Regions from separate parts of the Homo sapiens genome. Here region 2 is linked to region 1. A link means that fine-mapping ties the variant in region 1 to the expression of a gene that starts in the linked region. Tissue or cell type: whole blood. Region 1 holds a variant in brackets; the other region holds the start of a gene. All regions are shown on one strand. Distances are from middle to middle.

Region 1 (8,103 bases):
ATAGAATATAATTATTTCATAGGGAAATAATAAAGAAAAGAAATATTTCCAATTTGGAATTTTAAGAAAATACACTTTTTTTTTTTAGCAGTTATCCTTTTAGCACTAAAGGACACTAGCAGATTATTATAAGAAATCTTCTTTGGCAGATGAAGTTAGAAATGTCAAGTTGATCACTTCTGCTTTTGTGCCATTGATTATCTTATTTACTTATTTATTTATTTTTTGAGATGGAGTCTCACTCTGTTGCCTAGGTTGGAGTGCAGCGGCCTGATCTCAGCTCAGTGTAGCCTCTGCCTTCTAGGTTCAACCGATTCTCCTGCCTCAGCCTCTCAAGTAGCTGGGACTACAGGTGTGCACTACCATGCCCAGCTAATTTTTTGTAGTTTTAGTAGAGACGGGATGTCACCACGTTGGCCAGGCTGGTCTCAAACTCCTAACGTCAGGTGATCCACCCACCTCAGCCTCCCAAAGTGCTGGGATTACAGGTGTGAGCCACTGTGCCCGGCTTTACCTTTTATATTTCTGCATGGTATTATAATTATTTATTACCTCTCTGTATTCCCTATAGAAGATGAGGACCTTGAAGTTAGAGATAGTGCTATAATCTTATATCCCTAGAGCCTAGTTAACAGGTGCTAGGTTCGGTAGGTGATTGTTCAGAATCACCTGATATAATACAGCCCAATACAACACAACAGAACACAACACAGTACAATACAATGTAATACCTTTGATTTACGTTATCTGAAGGCTGAAAGTTGGAGACTATTTAGCAGGAACACATCACATGATTAATGGCTTCCACTGATTATGAATATAGTATAGCTTTAACTGTTTAGAAATTTCATTTCTAAGTATTTCTACAATTTATATAAATTCTAAATATAAATATACTTTTGATTGCAAATTACAGAATCCTAGATGGAATGAGCTTAAGCAGTAATCGGAGACATATTGGTTTATATGGCCAATCTGCAGAAAGGGTAAGGGTGGATTTATTTTTATGGATGACTGGCACCAAGAGCTTGGATATTATTCAGAAATTTCTCATTTCTCTCTCTTCACTTTTCACTTTTCTCTTTCCGTACTGGCTTTATTCTTTTAAGTTGCTGTCACCGTATCTCAACTATAGCCTTAAGTAGCCCTGGGCTTATATATTTATGACCTTGTAACCCGAGAAAAATTCAGTTAGAAAATCCCAGGAAAGGGCTCTCATAGGTCACATTTGGACTATGTGTTACCTTTGCACAAATCACTGAGGATAAGGCAGACGGAGGTATTATGCTTGAAACAAGCTGGGTTAGGAACTTATCTCTACCATCAGGGAAGTGGGATACTGTTATAGGCAAGTCCCTTCAAAATCACATGGTTGCAGAAGGAGAGAACCATTCTCTCCAAAGAATAAAAGTACTGTTATGATGAGACAAAATAATAAATAAATATTCATTGCATGGTCTATGATATATGTTGCTAGTTTTCTTCTAATTTCCATCTGGCCTTCTTTCTTAGTAAAAGAATTTTTAATTTTAACCTGGCAAATGGCCACCCAGAATAAATAATGCTCATATCAGCCTCCTTTGCAGCTGAGTGTGATCATGTTCTGATCCAAGTTCTGGCCAATGGATGTAAGCAAAATATTGTATGCACCTTCCAGGAAGTGTTCTTAAACTGAAGGGTCATGCACTTTCTCAGTCCTTCCTGCTCCCTTTGGAAAACACTGGAAGGCCTATTTCTCCATAAAATTCTAGGAATCTCCAAGGAATGCTTGTATTTTCTAAAATTCATATTGGTAGTCACTTGTCCTGTTCGCCAAGTGCCCTCACTCAAGGCCATTCAAGCTCCAGAGCTCTGCAGATCCTTCTTGCAACCTGACAAACAGACTATCAGAGCTCTGTGTCTCCTCTGCTCTTTTGTCTCAAGTATGAACAGAGCACCTGACCACATCTCTTTTTTCAGTTGTGTAATTCATGTGGGGGCTTATTTCCCTGCCACAATAATTGCTCTAGGGCTAGAAAACTGACCCAAACAAAATATTTCACTATCCCCTATATTAGACATAATGTATTTGTCTGAGGATGGTCACCTGACCCAATATGGTCTGATCAGAGCCTTTCCATCAGATTTTTGAATTCACACAGAGAAAGGTAGTCTTAGGTCCTTTCTGGTGGTGAGCACTGTAAGATGTGAGGCTCTGAAGTTGATATTCCCCTCTGGTGTGGAAGAAGTCAGTCTGTAGTGGGAGAGAATAATGCTCACATGCAGAAAGAAGTTGTAATAGAGGCTACAGAGAATTCTGGAAACATTTTAGCCCTGGGTTTCAGTCTTTCCTGAGGTCTATTTGTGTGTGTGTGTGTGTGTGTGTGTGTGTGTGTGTGTGTTTTGTTTGCTTGTTTTTGAAACAGAGTTTCGCTCTTGTTGCCCAGGCTGGAGTGCAATGGCACGATCTCGGCTCACTGCAACCTCCGCCTCCTGGGTTCAAGCGATTCTCCTGCTTCAGCCTCCCAAGTAGCTGGGATTACAGGCATGTGCCACCATGCCCAGTTGTATTTTTAGTAGAGACAGGGTTTCTCCATGTTGGTTAGGCTGGTCTCGAACGCGTGACCTCAGGTGATCCACCTGTCTCAGTCTCCCAAAGTGCTGGGATTACAGGCATGAGGCACCGCGCCCAGCCCCTGAGACCTATCTTATATTTTATCTTCTCTAACTCAGTTCAGATAAGGTTGTGGTGGGTTTTTTTGTTTGTTTTGTTTTGTTTTTGTTTTTGAGACAGAGTCTCACTCTGTCACCCAGGCTGGAGTGCAGTGGTGTGATCTCAGCTCACTGCAACCTCTGCCTCCTGGGTTCAAGTGATTTTCCTCTCTCAGCCTCCCGAGTAGCTGGGACTACAGATGTGTGCCACCACACCTGGCTAATTTTTGTATTTTTAGTAGAGATGGGGTTTCACCATGTTGGCCAGGCTGGTCTTGAACTCCTGACCTCAAGAGATCCGCCCGCCTTGGCCTCCCAAAGTGCTGGGATTACAGGCGTGAGCCACCACGCCCGGCTAATTGTGGTGTTTTCTAAAACTTCACTGAAGACTTTTAAAGAAAGCGTTGTTGAGAGGATTGAGTGAGAAACCATCAATTCTTTAGCTTTCCATGTGCTACACATATACCACATTCTAAAATGGCAGCTGCTATTAGTTCTATTTATTGAGGCATTTGTTCTCCAATATCTGTATTTATATATTTATAATTCTTGTTGTATATCTTAGGCTAAACTCCTAAAATATTAATTTCTCCAGTTTTTGAGAAGGACACTAAAAATAGCATGCAGATCAGTATCTTTAACCCTATTTAACATTCTTCATCAAGCCATCTGTTTCTAGGCTTTATCACCTTGTACTCAAATCCCTGATCCTCTTTATTGTTCTCTTCCTATTTAAGCTAATGTCCCCTCATAAGTCTGTGAGATCCTTCATTCCGGAGTGCAGAGG[C/T]GATAATCAGGAACAAGCTCCTGCCAGAAAAACTGTTACCTTGACATTATTATATGCCCTGGTCTCATTCTTAACAAAAAATGAAAATGGCTTTATTTGAAAGGACTTAAGAGTTGGTGATCTAAAACAAATCACAGGCTCTTAGAAAAGCTAAGGAGGAACTAGATTTAACTTGTGGAATGGAATATTTATTCCACCTTGTGCAGATAAGTGCTCAGAAATTGTTTTTGTTGATAAACTAAATAGTGGCACTCTATTGAGAAATAATTGTCTCTCATGTCCTTAGCACTGGCCACTATCTGATGTGTCAAAATTAGGAAGGTAATAGTACTGCTGCCAATTAAAGTGCTTGTTCAATTATGTCATTACTCATTAACATATGCAGGAGGAAGCTGGAATACCTTTAAAACTTTTTAAATTGACAAATAATGATTATATATTTATAAGGGTAAAATGTGATGTTTTTATATATGTATACATGTAGAAAGATTAAAATCAAGCTAACTAACATATCCATCACCTAGCCTACCTTTTTTGTGTGGCAAGAACATTTGAAATCTACTCTTTTAGCGATTTTGAAATATATAAAACCTTATTATTAACCAAGGTCGTCATGCTGCACAACAGATCTCTAAAACTTACTCTTTTTGTGTAACTGAAACTTTGTATCCTTTGACCAACATCTCTGCTTTCTCTATCCCTGCACCACAGCCTCTGGTAACCACCATTCTACTCTCTGTGTCTATGAATTCAACTTTTTTAGATTCCACATATAAGTGAGATTATACGGTATCTGTCTTTCTGTACCTGACTCACTTCACTTAGCCTATGTCCTTCAGGTTCATCCATGTTGTAAATAAGATTTCCTTCTTCTTCAAGGCTCTCTGGTATTCCACTGTGTATATATACCACATTTTCTGTGTCTGTTTATATGCTGATGGACATTTAGGTTGCTTCTATGTCTTGGCTATTGTGAATAATGCTGCAACAAACATGGGAGTGCGTATATCTCTTTGATGCACTGATTTCGATTTCTTTGGATATGTACTCAGAAGTTGAATTGCTGGATTTTATGGTAATTCTATATTTATTTTTTGAGGAACCTCCACACTGTTTTTCAAAATGGTTGTACAAATTTACATTCCCACAAACAGTGGGCTGGGTCCCCTTTTCTCCATATTCTTGGAAACACTTACCTTTCATGTTTTTGATAAAAGCTATTCTGGGTCGTCTAGTGACTAAGATTCACCTTTGTGCATCTGAAGTCAATACTTCTTAATTCTGCTTTCAGAACATATACCAGGTGAGAGGGATTTCTGTTTTTTCTAGTACCCAGTTCTACACTGCCAGTGATCATTTAATTGTGATAAATCTCTTGCCACAATGGTGGCAAACACTATGACCTTACTGGATGCTAATGCTGTTTGTTGCTGTGGTTGCTGTGGCTGCTGCTGGGTAAAGAGACTCCTTGGGCTCTTTAGTAAATAGGGCACTTTGAGATATTTCTTTTTTCTCTTGGGTTCTTAAAAATACATACCATTGGATATAAGATAAATCTGGTGGGATACTAAAGAGTTAAATAAAAGTAAATGGAGAGTGACTCTTAACTGATCGGCCCAGGTAAACTTCCACTTGTTGTAGTGGCTTGCAGAAGCCTGTTTTAGAGACATAGTGATGTCATTAGATGGCCTGTGGTGTCTCTTGATGCCCACAAGTCTCCTGTCTGCATTTCCAATGAGCTCCCAGGTGAGGCACTACCGCTAGGCTGGGAAACACACCCTGAAGCCGTGAAGTGTGTGCTCTGCACATGTGATCACATGTGGTTACGGCTCTTTTCAACAATCCCAGTTACCAACGGCTGGAGTTGCTCTCTCAGCCAGATCAGCTGCCTCAGACCTTCAGCATGTAGTTATTTTTTTTTTTTTTTTTTTTTTTTTTTGTAGAGAGTTTCGCTCTGTCACCCAGGCTGGAGTGCAATGGCACGATCTTGGCTCACCACAACCTCTGCCTCCCGGTTTCAAGCGATTCTCCTGCCTCAGCCTCCTGAGTAACTGGGATTACAGGCATGCGCCAACACGCCTGGCTAATCTTTGTATTTTTAGTAGAGACGGGGTTTCACCATGTTGGCCAGGCTGGTCTCGAACTCCCGACCTCAGGTGATCCACCTGCCTCAGCCTTCCAAAGTGCTGGGATTACTGGTGTGGGCCACCATGCCCAGCCCAGCATGAGATTTTACAGTATTTGACACAGCTAAAGACTGTGGAACTAGTCTTGACTTGACCCATTACTTCCATTAAAAGTTCCAGGCTCAGGCTGGGAAGCAGGAAGAATGATTAAGGAGAGAGAGAAAGGGAGAGTTTAGATTATTCTTCATGTTGGAATAAGAAGCTGTATTCTAAATGACTGGATTAGATGTTGTTTCAGTGGCAAGAGAAAGTCTGGAGTAACCACTGCATCTGTAATGTTAATGAATTTTAAATGTTAACATTCACACCTTTTTTCTCCCTTCTGCCTCTCTTTAGGAAAGCTGCTAAATTTGCTGGTGATATGCACATTTTAATGAATCTTATATATGCTTCATAAATCTTGTTGACTAATTAGTAAACCCATTTTATCATGCAAGAAGTATTCACTGAGCACTAGAACTTGGATTCCACTGGGCTGGTGCTGTCGTGTCTTCTCTCATTAAATCCAATGCGGACTTAGTTCAGGTTCACTCATCCCATACAGGGAGCTCTGGGGCTCCACCTGTTTCACTCTGTAGCACTGGTTCCTTTCACCTCATATCTGCTTTAACTACTGGACTTGGGTTTACTGAGTTCCTGATCTCTGACTTCATCTCCTATTTTTGGCTCTGAATTTGACCCTTGAACTTGGTAAGATGACAAGATCTCGTTTTTCCAGATTAATATTAACCTTTGCCACACCTCCCCAAATATAGTTTTACATTCACCCTCTGGCTTTGTTCCCTCCCAGCTGCTGTGTGTGAAAACCTGACTCCAGTCCTCCCAGCCTCTAGGACCCTGCCCAGACCTGGCCTACCTTCTTCCTCACCGCCACTGGAAAAAAACAGACGTCAAAAGCCTTAACAAAATACTGTCTGATATAGCAAAATGGAACATGTTTCCTACTAGAAGTATATGACCCGAAGGGGGAAAAATCTGACTCATTTTAAAAACAATTGTTAGGGGTGTGTGTGTTTTGAGAGAAAGAAATAGAAAAGGGCCAATGTATTTGCTATTAAAAAAATCTTCAAAATAACAGAAAAAATTTAAAACTATGTACTCAAAAAATGAATTGCTTTTGTCGTATTAGAAGTCTAGCCAACAGAAGTAAGGGGATGGAGACTGAACCAACCAGAGGAGAAAAGGTGGAAGGCGCTGCCCCAGCAGAGACCAGAACAGGGCCAGATAAAGTTAGGGTCAAAGATCCACACCCTGTTTGGAAACTAAGCAATCAACAAGTGTCAGTTGTTATTTAGGTGCACCAAACATTTTGGGGGGAAATGTGATTTCAGACACAGATAATTATATGATAGGGGCCTATTTGGCTTTCAGAGAAAATTTTCAAGATAAATCAGTAGCTTTAAATAAAAATCTAAGTTTGTAATCAAAGTTTTTCAGAAATAGCAGAGAAACATATTTTCCTTTAAGTAGTTCTCTGTTAATAGTCTCTAGTCTCAAGCAGTTTTAATTTTAAATAGGACTACCTCTAACTTTGTGGGGTCTGGGGCAAGGGTACAAATAGAGGCCCATACAGCATATACCTAGATATTTAATTTTTTGTTTGTTTGTTTTTTGAGATGGAGTCTTGCTCTGTCACCCAGGCTGGAGTGCAGTGGCATGATCTTGGCTCACTGCAACCTCCACCTCCCTAGTTCAAGCGATTCTCCTGCTTCAGTCTCCTGAATAGCTGGGACTACAGGTGCGCGCCACCATGCCTGGCTAATTCTTTGTATTTTTAATAGAGACAGGGTTTCACCATGTTATTCAGGCTGGTCTCGAACTCCTGACCTCAAATGATCCACCCACCTCAGCCTCCCAAAGTGCTGGGATTACAGGCGTGAGCCACTGCGCCTGGCCTGCCATTCCCTTCTTCCAATTCTATTAGGAGGCAGTGTGAAGAATTCTTTCCCTGCTATATGAATTACATCACCTACCTTAAAAGTAGGCAGCTACAGTTGGGGTTGATTGTGTTGTTTTGTTTTTGAGACAGGGTTTCACTCCGTCACCCAGGTTGGAATGTAGTGATGCGATCTCAGTTCACTGCAGCCTCAAACTCCCTGGCTCAAGTGATCCTCTCTCCTCAGCCTCCTGAGTAGCCAGGACTGCAGGCACATACCTGGCTAATTTTAAAAATTTTGTAGAGACAGTGTCTCACTACATTGCCCAGGTTGGTCTTGAACTCCTAGGCTCAAGTGATCTTCCCGCTTCAGCTTCCCAAAGTATTGGGATTACAGGCGTGAGCCACTGCACCTGGCCTGGTTGGGTTCTAAATAACAAGTTTTTCTTTCTCAGTTACACAATGATCCCAGAGCAATCTATGAGCTCTCTGAAATCATTTAGTCCCCTAGGGATGGATCGTGCCAACCACGTGAATAATGATAACAAAGATAATAATATTTA
Region 2 (8,103 bases), 120 kb after region 1:
ACCACACCCAACTAATTTTTGTATTTTTAGTAGAGATGGGGTTTCACCATGCTGCCCAAGCTGGTCTCGAACTCCTGACCTCAGGCGATCCGCCCGCCACGGCCTCCCAAACTGCTGGGATTACAGGTGTGAGCCACCACACCCAGCCAGAAGCTTCATTTTAAACAATCTCATGGGAGTTCTTACCTGAGAAAATCTGAAAACCACTGCCTTGGGGTTACCATTGACTCCCCTCTCACTCTAGTCCATTTCTGTTCCAATCAAACCATTTTCTGATTTTATGGTAGCTCTCAAATAAACTCCTTCCTTTCCATTCCCACAGATGACTTGTAAGTCAGGGTTCTACCCTCACTCTGGATTGATCTCTGTTCCTCCAGTCTCCCATGCCAACTCACTTACACATCACTGCCAGATCCATCTGCCCCCAGATGCTCTCTGGCATGTCTGTACTCAAAATTTGTCAATGACTCCCTACTGCCCAACCACATGCACCTTAAATTCTTTAGCTAGAAATGGTCAAGATATATGTTAACCGGGCCGGGCGTGGTGGCTCACGCATGTAATCCCAGCAATTTGGGAGGTCGATGCAGGCAGATTGCTTGAGGTCAGGAGTTTGAGACCAGCCTGACCAATATGATGAAACCTCGTCTCCACTAAAAATACAAAAATTAGCCGGGCATGGTGGCAGGCACCTGTAATCCCAGCTACTCGGGAGGCTGAGACAGGAGAATCGCTTGAACCTGGGAGGCGAAGGTTGTAGTGAGCTGAGATTGGGCCATTGCACTCCAGTCTGGTCAACAAGAGCAAAACTCCGTCTCACAAAAAAAAAAAAAAAAAAAAAAAAAAAGATATATGTTAACCAAGTTTTTTTCTCTAATAATTTCCACATTGAGATTATTGGAAAGTTGCTTCTATAGACATTACTCGAGCTCCCCTCAGAAATATGACAATATCTGTAATGCTCAAAAAGGGCTACATTGCGGGGCATGGTGGCTTACGCCTATAATCCTAGCACCTTGGGAGGCTGAGGTGGGCGGAGTGCCTGAGCTCAGGAGTCTAAGACCAGCCTGGGCAACATGGTGAAACCCTGTCTCTATAAAATACAAAAAATTAGCTGGGTGTGGTGGCACAAGCCTCTAGTCCCAGCTACTTGGGAGGCTGAGGCAGGAGAATTGCTTGAACCTGGGAGGCGGAGGGAGGCTGCAGTGAGCTGAGATCGCGACACTGCACTCCAGCTTGGGCAACAAAGTGAGACTCCATCTCAAAAACAAAAACAAAAACAAAAACGCTACGGGTAGTGGCTCACGCCTGTAATCCCAGCATTTTGGGAGGCTGAGGCAGGAGGATCACCTGAGGTCAGGAGTTTGAGACCATCCTGGTCAACATGGTGAAACCCCATCTCTACTAAAAATACAAAAAAATAGCTGGGTGTGGTGGTGCATGCCTGTAATCCCAGCTACTGGGGAGGCTGAGGCAGAAGAATCGCTTGAACCCAGGAGGCGGAGATGGCAGTGAGCCGAGATCGTGCCATTGCACTGCAGCCTGGGCAACAAGAGCGAAACTCCATCTCAAAAAAAAAAAAGAAAAGAAAAGAAAAGAAAAAAAAGGCTATATAAAGGTTTCTTCATCATCTGTAATCATTTTCTTAGTTCTTATCCTCTTTTCACTGCTTTAGTGGTTTTTAAAAACATTTTTCTTTTAAACAAATACAAATACTACTTTTTGGAAATGAACAGGCTGTAAAAAAGCCAAACATTCCCCCCCTCAAGATGAAATTCAAATGTGTCCCTGCCTATATCCCCTGTCTTGTCCATTAACTCACTTCTCAGTCCAGCGTCTATGTCTTTGCTCAGGTTCTTCTCCCTGCCTGCAGCACCTATCCTCTCCTTTCTGGTTAATTTTGTGCTTTCCTTTAAAGATCCAACTAGATCACTTCCCTCATAAAGCCCTTCCCGACTAGTCTACAAGTATCTTTCTTCTCCCAAGAACACCTGTGGCACTGATTCAGCAGTCCATTAAGAACACAGCCTCATAGTGTAATTTCTTTTAATGTATAGGATTGTTTCCAACTCATCAGGTCTGGTGCAATTCTGTCACGATTTAACATGGAACATCCGGGCTGCCCTTCCTGAATAGTCCAGGGCAAGAGCAGTAGTGAGTGATTCTTCTCTTTTCTCGGGTTCACTTTGACCTGAAGCAAGTTGCTATCTTCGGAGAGTATGTATGGACCCCAACAGAATGGGGCCCAGGGGTCTTCATCCCTTACAAATCCTGGACTGTATCAAAGGGAAGGCCTCGGTAATTCGTGCTCACCCAGCCCATTCGGATCCTGGTCCTCCCTCTCTTGGGGTTCAGGGGGTTCCTAGAGTTTTCTTGTTCCCACCCAGGCATGGGGGGCTAGTGTCCAGCTGAGAGTTCTCTCTCCACTGGGCGGGGGTCCGTGCCTGGATGGCCAGCGCATGGACCGGACCTCCCAGCTCCTCGGCCAGCGCTGCGTGGACCAGCCGGTGTCGTTGTAGGGGGCTCAGTCCCTCGAAACGAGAGCTCACCACAGCCACGCGGAAGTGAGTCTCACTGCCAGGCGGGACCGCGTGGCCACCGCTCTCGTTGCGAAGCTCTAGCACCTCGGGGCTCAGGGCCTCCTCCAACTTCGTGCGAATGGCGGCCTCCACCGGACCGATGGCCCCGGATCCCGCGCTGCCCTGGCACAAACAAACGCGGCCAGCCATGGAGACCAGACCCAGGACCAGCCGCCCACTCAGCATGGGCTACGCCAGAGACTCAGACGCCAGGAGTGAGGGTCGGGGCGATCCGCCTGGTGAGAGCACAATGTCAACACCCGCCCCGCGATCCCCGCATCCGCCCTAACCCCACGCCCGGACGTCCACACCAGCTCCTATAGGGAGCCCGCCTTGATGCCACACGGGGAGACCCGAGACACCGCCCCTTTTCTCTACGTGACGTGGTGAATTCGACCTCCAGCTGTGGAAGTGAAGGGACAAGCGAAGATTAGAAAGGCCCGCACGCGAGGCGCGTTCGTTCCTTAGGGGATTTGCAAAGAATGGGCAAAAGTAGGGCATGTGCAACTGCGTACTTGTGGTTGGGCCGAAGCCCCTGTGTTCCCTGTGAAGCCCCGGAGACGCCCCTTCTACCTGCCGCTCAGCCTCGGCCACTGCGATTCCCGCTCAGGGCCAGGACTCTGGACGCTCCGGAGCAAAATGCAGTCCTGGCGCCCTTCCTGAGGCACGCTGGGAAATGGAGTCCTCGCTGCGCGTTGGTAGCACGGGCAGGCACCACGTGGTGCCCTGAGGGCTCATGGGAACTGTAGTCTCGGATTCTCCCCACTGGTAAGGTGGTCAGAAAGTCTGAACCCAGCAATGCAAAGAAAAAGGGAATTCACGCGCAGTTGGGATTGGGATTATTAGATCTATTTTACTGCCAATAGATCTTGTAGATCATCCAGCCCAACTCCTTTATTTTATATGCAAGAAAATGGAAGTCTGATTGAATACATAATTACTGTGCCCCAGACTAGTGCTGGGGACTGGGGAGTCAAGTCAGGCCCTGTTTTCAAGGAGACAACAGAGCACTGAAGACTAACAAGTGAGCGGACAATTGCAATACTGGGTACTAGGTGCTACGATGAGATAAACACAGGATGCTAAGGAGGCAAGTTACCCAGACTTGGCCGGGGTTGGAGAGGTGGAATGGGAGGCGGGCAGAGAATATTTCCGAGATTTAGGGAAACAGTTCAGCAGAAACAACATGAGAATCCATTTCTCAGTCCCTCATAGTGAGGTTTTGGCTTTGGTAGCTGCATGTGTAAAGGACAGGAGGAGAGAGAATTTTGAGGGAGTCTTTCCTTCTGGTGTAGTTAGGGTGTGGTTATGTGTGGTTGGAGCCTAGGGGGCAGCTGATGGTGATGAGTAGGGTACCAGGAGGAGAGGAACGGGCCAGACCACCCCAGGCCTTGTAGCCCTTGTTAGGCAATTTTGTCTTTATCCTAGAAGTAGTGGGAAGCTACTGAGGTTTTAAGCAGGGATGTAACAGGATGTAATTTTTCCAGGATGATTCTTAACTTGTAAAATTATTTAAATTTTATTTTGTATCCTTAATATATTTACATATTTCTAAATGTTTTTCCCCAACTTCTCATTTTGAAAAATGTCAAAGCCACAGAAAAGTTGAATAGTTCAAAGCAACACCCTCTACCTTTCACTTGACCCACCATTTTTTGCATTTATATTTATTTTATACTTGTACATATATACTCATATATTTAAGTACTTTACATATACTTTAAAATATATTTATATGCTTTTTTGGATGAACCATTTGAAAGTAAGTTGCAGATAGCATGACATTTCACCCCTAACTACTCCAATATGTATCTCCTAAGAACAAAGATATTCTCATACATAACCACAATAACCTTATCACACTCAAGAAATTTAAACTATGACATACACTGTTTTCCCTAGCCTTTAAAAAAAATTAAAACTTCCAGAAAATTTGCAAGATTAATACAATGAGCAACCCATTTATCCACTCTTCACCTAGGTTCACTGATAAGATTTTGCCAGACTTGGCTTTGTATCTCTTTTAATGTATGTGTGTATAATAATAATGAAATAATAATAATTATTTCTGCTGAATCACTTGAGTTAGGTGCAGAAATCTTATTTATTTATTTTTTTTTGAGATGGAGTTTTGCTCTTCTTGCCCAGGCTGGAGTGCAATGGCGTGATCTTGGCTCACTGCAACCTCTGCCTCCTGGGTTCAAGCAAGTCTCCTGCCTCAGCCTCCTGATTAGCTGGGATTACAGGCATGTGCCAACATGCCCGGCTAATTTTGTATTTTTAGTAGAGACGGGGTTTCTCCATGTTGATCAGGCTGGTCTGGAACTCCCAACCTCAGGTGATCCACCCTCCTCGGCCACCCAGGATTACAGGGATTACAGGCGTGAGCCACTGCGCCTGGCCCAAAATTCTTTTTTTTTTTTTTTTTAAACAGAGTCTCACTCTGTTGCCCAGACTGGAGTGCAGTGGCGCCATCTTGGCCCACTGCAACCTCCACCTTCTGGGTTCAAGTGATTCTCCTGCCTCAGCCTCCTGAGTAGCTGGGACTACAGGCTGGTGCCACCATACCTGGCTAAATTTTTTTGCATTTCTAGTAGAGATGGGGTTTCACCATGTTGGCCAGGCTGGTCTGGAACTCCTGACCTCAAGTGATCCTCCTGCTCTGGAACTCCTGACCTCAAGTGATCTGCCTGCCTCAGCCTCCCAAAGTGATGGGATTACAGGCGTGAGCCACTGCACCCAGCCACAAAATTCTTTTTTTTTTTTTTGAGATGGAGTTTCGCTCTTGTTGCCTAGGCTGGAGTGCAATGGTGCGATCTTGGCTCACAGCAACCTCCGCCTCCTGGGTTCAAGCGATTTGCTTGCCTCAGCCTCCCATGTAGCTGGGATTACAGGCGTGCGCCACCACTCTGGCTAATTTTGTGTTTTTAGTGGAGACGGGGTTTCTCCATGTTGGTCAGGCTGGTCTTGACTCAGGTCATCAGTCCGCCTCGGCCTCCCAAAATGCTGGGATTATAGGCGTGAGCCACTGCGCCTGGCCCCACAAAATTCTTTACACTTAATTGCTATGTACTTTCAATGTGTATCTCCTAAGAACAAGGACATTTTCATACATATCCACAATACCATTACCACATCCAAGACATTTAACATTCATACAATACTATAATCACATACAGTTGATATTCAGATTTCCCCAACTGTCTCATTGGTGTCTACTATAGTTTGAATATGTCTCCTCCAGAATTCATGTTGAAAATTAATCCATGGTGTTGGTATTAAGTGGTGGGGCCTTTAGGAGGTAATAAGGCTATGAGGGCTCCACCCTCAAGAATGGACTAACGCCTTTTGAAAGAGCTTGAGGGGGTAAGTTGGCCCCTTCTGTCCCTTCTGCCATGTAAGGTCACCTCGATGGCGTATCTATGAGGAACTGGCCTTCACTAGATACCAAACCTGCCAGTGCCGTAATCTTGGACTTCCCAGCCTCCAGAACTGTGAGAAAATACATTTCTGTTTATAAATTACCCAGTCAGTGGTATTTTGTAATAGCAGCACAGTCTAAGTAAACATTATAAATGTTTAATTTTCAGAAACCAATCAAGGATCATGCATTGCATTTAGCTGACTTTAAGTTTGTATTCTGCAAAGATCACTGGCTTCAGGGTGGAGAATGGATTGTAGAGGAGGCAAGAGTGGAAACAGGGAGACAAGTTGGGAGGTTACTGTAGCAGTCTAGGTGAGAGATGATGATGATTTGGACCAAGGTGGTGGTGGTGGTGGTGGAAATGGAGAGAAATTGTGGCTACAGGATGTATATTAGGAAAGTAAAACCTACAGGGTGTGGTAATGGCTTGGTTGTGGGAGGGAAAGTGTCAAGGATAATTACAAGGTTTGTGCATCTAAAGTTAAAAAAAACAGTTCAAATAATTCCTGTATATCCTTTATCCTGATACCTAGATTACCCAAATATTAACAATTCACTGTTTGTTTTATTTGTATGTACCTATCTACAAATATATAATTATTTTCTGGACTGTTTGAGACTAAGTTTCAGAGATAAAGCCTATTAAACTCTACCTGTGATGGTTAACTTTTTTTTTTTTTTTGAGATGGAGTCTCACTCTGTCGCCCAGGCTGGAGTGCAGTGATGCAATCTTGGCTTACTGCAACCTCTGTCTCCTGGGTTCAAGTGATTCTTGTGCCTCCGCCTCCTGAGTAGCTGGGATTACAGGCGTGGACAATGGCGCCTGGCTAATTTTTGTATTTTTAGTGGAGAGGGGGGTTTCACCATGTTGGCCAGGCTGGTCTCAAACTCCTGACCTCAGGTGATCCACCCACCTCAGCCTCCCAAAGTGCTGGGATTAGAGGCGTGAGCCACCACGCACGGCCTGTGATGGTTAATGTCCCAACTTCTAGAGGATTGGTGCTCAGATATTTGGCCAAATATGGGTGCTTCTGTGAGAGTATTTTGAATGAGATTAACATTTGAATTGGAGACTGAGTAAATTGCCCTCCCTAATATAGGTGGGTCCCATCCAACCAGTTGAAAGCTTGACTAGAACAAAAGACTGACCCACTCCGGAGTAAGAGAGACTTCCTTCTGCCTGACTGCTTTGAGACCCGGACATTGGCTTTTCTCAGCCTTCAGACTCAGAAGTAAACACTGGCTCCATCTGGGTCTTAGACTCGGCCTTTGGACTGGAACTACACCATTGGTTCTCAGGCCTTTGAACTTGGACTGGAACTATATCATCAGTTCTCCTGGGTCTCCAGCTTGCCAACTTACCCTGAAGATCTTGGGGATCTTGGGATTTATTAGCTTCCATAATCAAAAAGCCAATTTTTTATAATAAAACTATCTATCAAAATATCTACCATTCGTTCTGTTTCCCTGGAGAATCCTGACTGATGTATATTTACTTAAAAAAAAAAATTTTCTCACATAGCCGGAATATAACTGTCAGACTCTAGAAATGAACACAGATACGGTACTATTATCTAATCTACAGACCTTATTCAAAATTTGCCAATTGTTCCACTACTATCATATATATAAAATGAAAAGAAATATCTTCTGGTCCAGGATCCAATCTAGGATGACGTGTTGCATTCAGTTGTTATATTTCTTTGTTCTCCATTAACTTGAAATAGTTTCCTAGATTTTCTTTGTCTTTCATGACTTTGGTAATTTTGAAGTTACAGACATTTATTTTGTAGAATGTCCCTCAATCTGGGTTTGTCTGATGTTTCTTTATGATTAAAATTTAGCACATGCATTTTTGGCTGGAATACTGCAGAAGTAATGTTGAATTCTTCTCTGTGAACCTTACCAGGGCACGTGATCTTTTTGTTATTACTAGTGATAGTTCTGATCACTTGATTAAGATGGTATCTGTCAGGCTTTTCCACTATAAAATTCCTTTTCTGTCTGTAATTGTGGAAGATACTCTAAGTGTATCTACTTTCCTAATTCTCATTAAGTTTTTTCCCACTAATTTTAGCATGTGAGAAGTATATTTGAGAC

The links. PIP is the estimated chance that this variant, and not a neighbour inherited with it, causes the effect.
Region 2: BOLA1 starts here. The variant in region 1 is fine-mapped to the expression of BOLA1 in whole blood (INTERVAL, PIP above 0.99).

What each region holds. Positions count from the first base shown.
Region 1 is chr1:150,019,711-150,027,813 of GRCh38, reverse strand. All of the region lies in intron 1 of LOC124904413 (a long non-coding RNA gene), which reads right to left. It also overlaps a transcript of OTUD7B not described here. Among named protein-coding and RNA genes, the nearest start is that of OTUD7B, 13 kb to the right of the region's middle. The variant C/T (reference allele first, on the strand shown) is at 3,479.
Region 2 is chr1:149,894,722-149,902,824 of GRCh38, reverse strand. BOLA1 (bolA family member 1) reads right to left here and starts at 3,257. Exons shown (of 2, transcript NM_016074.5): 1 at 3,153-3,257; 2 at 2,030-2,815. The coding sequence starts at 2,765. The coding sequence ends at 2,352. LOC124904412 (a long non-coding RNA gene) reads left to right here and starts at 3,277. Exons shown (of 2, transcript XR_007066597.1): 1 at 3,277-3,347; 2 at 7,104-7,449. RefSeq lists an enhancer at 3,164-3,223.